Linked DNA regions of Homo sapiens. The protein of the gene in region 1 interacts with the protein of each later gene in a pairwise test. Each region holds a gene or a part of one and is shown in the gene's direction. Other genes may lie near its edges.

Evidence for each region. The genes of interacting proteins can lie anywhere in the genome.
Region 2: the proteins of NME7 (region 1) and ZNF23 interact in binary tests that used the Homo sapiens proteins (3 or more experiments, as listed by UniProt).

The regions. Positions count from the first base shown.
Region 1 is NC_000001.11:169,298,276-169,301,933, reverse strand, and holds part of NME7 (nucleoside diphosphate kinase homolog 7), read left to right. Parts: intron 1-3,170; coding exon 3,171-3,378; intron 3,379-3,658. UniProt on the Homo sapiens protein: Possesses an intrinsic kinase activity. Displays 3'-5' exonuclease activity with a preference for single-stranded DNA. Does not seem to have nucleoside diphosphate kinase activity.
Region 2 is NC_000016.10:71,446,989-71,449,722, reverse strand, and holds the end of ZNF23 (zinc finger protein 23), read left to right. Parts: coding exon 1-1,630; 3' UTR 1,631-2,126; downstream 2,127-2,734. UniProt on the Homo sapiens protein: May be involved in transcriptional regulation. May have a role in embryonic development.

The DNA.
Region 1 (3,658 bases):
CCTGCCTTCTCTCCTCTAGTAGTCCACAGTGTCTATTACCCCCAAATTTGTGTCTATGTGTGTTTAATGTTTAGCTCCTACTTGTAAGTGCGAACATGCAGCATTTGGTTTTCTGTTTGTGGATTAATTTGTTTAGGATTATGGCCTCCAATTGTGTCCATATTATTGCCAAGGACATAATTTTATTTTTTTATGGCTGTGTAGAATTCTGTGTTATATATATATACCACATTTTCTTTATCCAATCTGCCACTGATGGGCACTTGAGTTATTTCCATGTATTTGCTATTGTGAATAGCACAGCAATGAGTGTATGAGGGCATGTGTCTTTTTGGCAGAATTTCTTTTCTTTTGGGTATATACCCAGTAATGGAATTGCTAGGTTAAATGGTAGCTCTGTTTTAAGTTCTTTGAGAAATATCCACACTGCTTTCCACAATGGCTGGAGTAATTAATATTCCCACCAACCGTGTATAAGCATTCTCTTTCCTCTATAGTCTTGCCAGCATGTTATTTTTTGACTTTTTAATAATAACCATTCTGACTGGTGTGAAATGGTATCTCATTGTGGTTTTGATTTGCATTTCTCCGATGATTAGTGATATTGAGCGTTTTTTCGTATGCTTATTGGCTGCTTGTATGTTCTTTTGAGAAGTGTGTATTTATGTCTTTTGCTCTTTTTTTAGTGGGGTTGTTTCATGCTTGTTTGATTATTTAAGGTCGTTACAGATTCTGCATATTAGTCCTTTGTTGAATGCATAGTTTGTGAATATTTTCTCTCATTCTGTGGATTGTCTTTTTACTCTGTTGCTAGTGCAGAAGCTTTCTGTGCAGAAGCTCTTTAGTCCCACTCGTCAATTTTTGTTTTCGTTGCCATTACTTTTGAGGACTTAGTCATAAATTCTTTCCCCAGGCCAATGTCCAGAATGGTGTTTCCTAGGTTTTCTTCTAGGATTCTTATAGTTTGAGGTCTTACTTTTAAATCTTTAATCCATCTTGAGTAAAGTTTTGTATATGGTTAATGTTAAGGGGCCAGTTTCTTTCTTCTGCTTATGGCTAGACAGGTATCCCAGCACCATTTATTGAATAGAGAATCCTTTCTCCATTGCTTATTTTTGTTGACTTTGTCAAAGTTCAGATGGCTGTAGATGTGTGGCTTTATTTCTGGGTTCTCTATTATGTTCCAGTGATCTATGTGTCTGTTTTTGTACCAGTACCATGATGTTTTGGTTACTGTAGCCTGTTGTACTTTTAAACTATTTTGGTAGTCTTGTATACATAAAGCAATGTTCATGGAACCTTTCTATTTTAACTAGTTTGATATATATTTTGTTCCTTGACATAGAACAGATAATATATGTTACACTTTATGTATTCTAAATATTTGACATGTAATTAAATTTAAGTGAATATTTTGCATGCTCATATTATTATTACTGTTGCCAAAGACTGTTTACACTTCTAATAAGAAAGAATGTTACATCAGCCAAACTAAATGGCCACAGTAGACATGTTATTTGATATCCTGCACTGAGTAGTGGGTTTTTAAAAAAATTTGTATGTAAGAAAATTATTATGCTATAGATTATTTCAAATCAAGTGTTATAAAATATTCCTAAGCCTTCTTAGAATAGCTATATACACTTTTCTAGAAAATTGGTGGAAATTATCTTTTGGTATAAACTTTGTATATGTTTATAGCATTAACTTACAACTCCTAGTCTAATGATTTATGTGTGATTTGCATGCAGTAAATTTTATTAAAGGAATGAATTAACTAGTTGCCTGTTAATGAGAATGATGTAACAAAAGACTAGGTGAAGTAATTAAATTTTCATGAAGCAGTATCTATGATCAGGCACATCCTTCCCTATATTGTTACATGCCATATTCATAGGCTTATTCAATTGTGTGTTTTGAGAATTTTGTATTAATAGGGCGTTAGATTGTAAGTGTCTTGAAGGGGGATCTTTTTTGTGGCACAGACGCTGATATGTTATAGGCAATTATTAAATGCTTATTGAGTGAATAAACATGGTTTGCTCCTTTGATTTGGGTTTTTTTAAATCTAGTGGTTGGTCTTGGGGGTTTTGTTTGTTTTGGCAGCAAAGGTCTGGCAGAAAATGTATGAGGAGGTATTATAGAACTCTTAGGATAGAAGACAAGAATACTTTTTTGTACATGCTGTTTTTTAGAAATATTCTTCAAAATGAATGGGAGTGTTTTAAAAAGGAAGTACTGAGGGGAGCTGACATATAACATGCAGGGTGGAAGGAAGTGTGTAAAAAATAGTCATAAGTTAGTGGGCACAAAAGAGCCTGTCACACCATGCTCCTTTCTCCAGGAGGATCTCTTCTCTCTACTTTGGATGAGAGAAAACCATGGGCTTACTCTAAAAAGTACTGTGTCCCTGCTTAATATAGTCAGAGGGAGGATGTCACTTATTTCATAGTTAAACTTGTCATTGCATCCTGTACACATATAAAAGTAGAAAATAAAATGAAGTATTGTCTTTTATACCTTGGGGGACTGTGACTCAGTGCTGGATTTTTAGTCAAGAACCGATGCGTACACTTTAATAATTTAATACAGAAATAACCCAGAGTAGTTTTTACGCTAATAAAAGGATATTTCTTGAAGCCTGCTGGGGATTTTTTTTTTTATCACCAAACCAGCTCAGTGTTTATTGATTAAGAGAGTTCTTTGTCAGTCTTTGAATTCTAATAGTTTTACACAAAAATAAATAAATTCTTACTAAAAATATGTTACAAGGCATCCATCCCTATATATTGTGAAATTGTACTTGACTGCAGTGGTAAACACATGTAAATAAAAAGGAAAATCCTCTGTACCTGTTAGAGCACTGGGAAAAGCATAGGTCAACAGTATGCATTTTAAGTCATGAAATAGTCTTAATTCAACAGAACAGTGATTTTTCTGGTAACAGTAATTTGACATTACTAGTGATTTGAAGTGAATTGAGCCACTGCAAGACACTCAATTTATGAAAAATTTCTCCTGCCCATGTAAAATTAACTATGCTTAATGGTTCTAAGATTATAATATTCATGTCTATGTTGAAATAATCCAATTTAAATATATCCTGTCGTTAAGACAAATACCTAGTTGACAGAAAAAAGAAGCAAACTAATCTTCTATCTGTTTTGTAGTGAGCTGATCCAGTTTATTACAACTGGTCCTATTATTGCCATGGAGATTTTAAGAGATGATGCTATATGTGAATGGAAAAGACTGCTGGGACCTGCAAACTCTGGAGTGGCACGCACAGATGCTTCTGAAAGCATTAGAGCCCTCTTTGGAACAGATGGCATAAGAAATGCAGCGCATGGCCCTGATTCTTTTGCTTCTGCGGCCAGAGTAAGGTGTTTTAAAAATATTTTAATGCTCTTCTAGTTCTGTTAAATGTTTTATATCAAAGGAAAGCATTTCTATCACTGGTGACTTAGGGTGGATTTATGCTGCTGCTCTAGTAGTAGAGAAAACCTTTGACATCTTGCCTACTATCAAACAGTGATTCAGTGTGTCTCCTTTGTGAACTGGTAACCTGATCATGATCAACGTAAGTTTTCTCCAATTAAAACACTTCTCATCCTGTTTCTTGTTCCCAAGACTTAAATTACTGAGGCTCCTAAATGTT
Region 2 (2,734 bases), on another chromosome or scaffold:
GAAGAGCAACACCATTGATGGAACAGTGAAAGATGAGACAAGCCCCGTGGAGGAGTGTTTTTTTAGTCAAAGTTCAAACTCATATCAGTGTCATACCATCACTGGAGAGCAGCCCTCTGGGTGTACAGGATTGGGGAAATCCATCAGCTTTGATACAAAACTCGTGAAGCATGAAATAATTAATTCTGAGGAAAGACCTTTCAAATGTGAAGAATTAGTAGAGCCCTTTAGGTGTGACTCTCAACTTATTCAACATCAAGAGAACAACACTGAGGAAAAGCCTTATCAGTGTTCGGAGTGTGGCAAAGCTTTCAGCATTAATGAGAAATTAATTTGGCATCAGAGACTTCACAGTGGGGAGAAACCCTTCAAATGTGTGGAGTGTGGGAAAAGCTTCAGCTACAGTTCCCATTATATCACACATCAGACAATCCACAGTGGGGAGAAGCCCTATCAGTGTAAGATGTGTGGGAAGGCCTTCAGTGTTAATGGAAGCCTAAGTAGGCATCAGAGAATCCATACGGGAGAGAAGCCCTATCAGTGCAAGGAATGTGGAAATGGCTTCAGCTGTAGTTCTGCATATATTACACATCAGAGAGTCCACACTGGAGAGAAACCTTACGAGTGTAATGACTGTGGGAAAGCGTTCAATGTTAATGCAAAATTAATTCAACATCAGAGAATCCATACTGGAGAGAAACCTTATGAATGTAATGAATGTGGAAAAGGCTTCAGGTGCAGCTCCCAGCTTAGGCAGCATCAGAGCATCCACACAGGAGAAAAGCCCTATCAGTGTAAAGAGTGTGGAAAAGGCTTCAATAATAATACAAAACTCATTCAGCATCAGAGAATCCACACAGGTGAGAAACCCTATGAATGCACTGAATGTGGAAAAGCCTTCAGTGTCAAAGGGAAGTTAATCCAACACCAGAGAATTCACACAGGCGAGAAACCCTATGAGTGTAATGAATGCGGGAAAGCCTTCAGATGTAACTCCCAATTTCGGCAGCATCTGAGAATTCACACTGGGGAGAAGCCCTATGAGTGTAATGAGTGTGGAAAGGCCTTCAGCGTTAATGGGAAACTAATGCGGCATCAGAGAATTCACACTGGGGAGAAACCTTTTGAATGTAATGAGTGTGGGAGATGCTTTACTTCTAAAAGAAACCTACTTGATCATCACCGAATCCATACTGGAGAAAAGCCCTATCAATGTAAGGAATGTGGGAAAGCCTTCAGTATCAATGCCAAACTAACTAGGCATCAGAGGATACATACTGGGGAGAAACCTTTCAAATGTATGGAATGTGAGAAAGCATTCAGCTGTAGTTCTAACTATATTGTGCACCAGAGAATCCATACAGGAGAGAAACCCTTTCAGTGTAAGGAGTGTGGAAAAGCCTTCCATGTTAATGCCCATTTAATTCGGCATCAGAGAAGCCACACTGGGGAGAAACCCTTCAGATGTGTGGAATGTGGCAAAGGCTTCAGCTTTAGTTCTGACTACATTATACATCAGACAGTCCACACTTGGAAGAAACCCTATATGTGTAGTGTGTGTGGGAAAGCATTCAGGTTTAGCTTCCAGCTCAGTCAGCATCAGAGTGTCCATAGTGAAGGAAAATCCTAATAATGAGAAAGATATAGAAAACTCTTAAGGTTAATGCCAAAATGGATCAAGTATCATCAGATTCATCCATTGAAAAACCTCCAAGAGGGCATGAATATGGCAGAGTCTTCATATGGAAACAGTTTTTATTCTATTCAGTTTAAATCAGGAAAGGATGACCAGTTAAAGAGAAACATCCAAAAATAGCTTTGTTTTGTACCAACAGGAATTAGAAAATATAATGAAAAGATTTCGTTCCCAGCAGCATCAAGAAAAGTAGATTTTCTAGAAATAAACAGTTATGGAGGACTTGTATGGAGAAATTTAAGTCTTCACTGAGGGCCACTTTACAAAGGAAATTTGAATAAATGGAGAGAGAGAGAAGCCTTGTTGTTGGATAGGAAAACCCGTACTAAAGATACTCTACCTACATTAATTTATTTGTTTAATTTTTGACAACAAGCATGTATTACTTTTGAAAAGATGAAAAATAAAGATTTATTTAAAAAAGGAAAAAGGTATGAGTACATTTTTAATTTTCATGTAATTGAGAAAACCTTTCTAAGTATTAGATGAAAGCTAGAAACTATCCACAGGGTATGTACTGATAAATTGACTACTCAAAAACTAAATATTCCTGTATGTTTTTGTTTTAAAGTTTAAAAGATAAAGCGCAAAATGGGGAAATACTTTTGTAAAATTTGTGATATAAAAGTGTAGTATTTGGGCATGGTGGATCAGACCTGTAATCTCAGTGCTTTGGGAGGCTGAGACGGGAAGATTGCGTGAGGCCATGAGTTCCAGACCTGTATGGGCAACATAGCAAGATCCCATCGCTACAAAAAATAATAAAAGCCAGGCGTGGTGGTATGTGCCTGCAGTCCTTGCTGCTTGGGAGGCTGAGGCAAGAGGATCACCTGACTCCAGGAATTCGAGGCTGCAGTGAGCTATGACCACCACTGCACTCCAGCCTGGGTGGCAGTGAGACCCTGTCTCTTAAAACATTAATATCTAAAGATAAATAATTTAGACACACTAACAGGCAGCTTTTAAACAGATACTAAAAAATGACTGTTAAAGTAAGAAGAGGTATTCAATCTCAGTACTCTAAGGTGTGAAAATTAG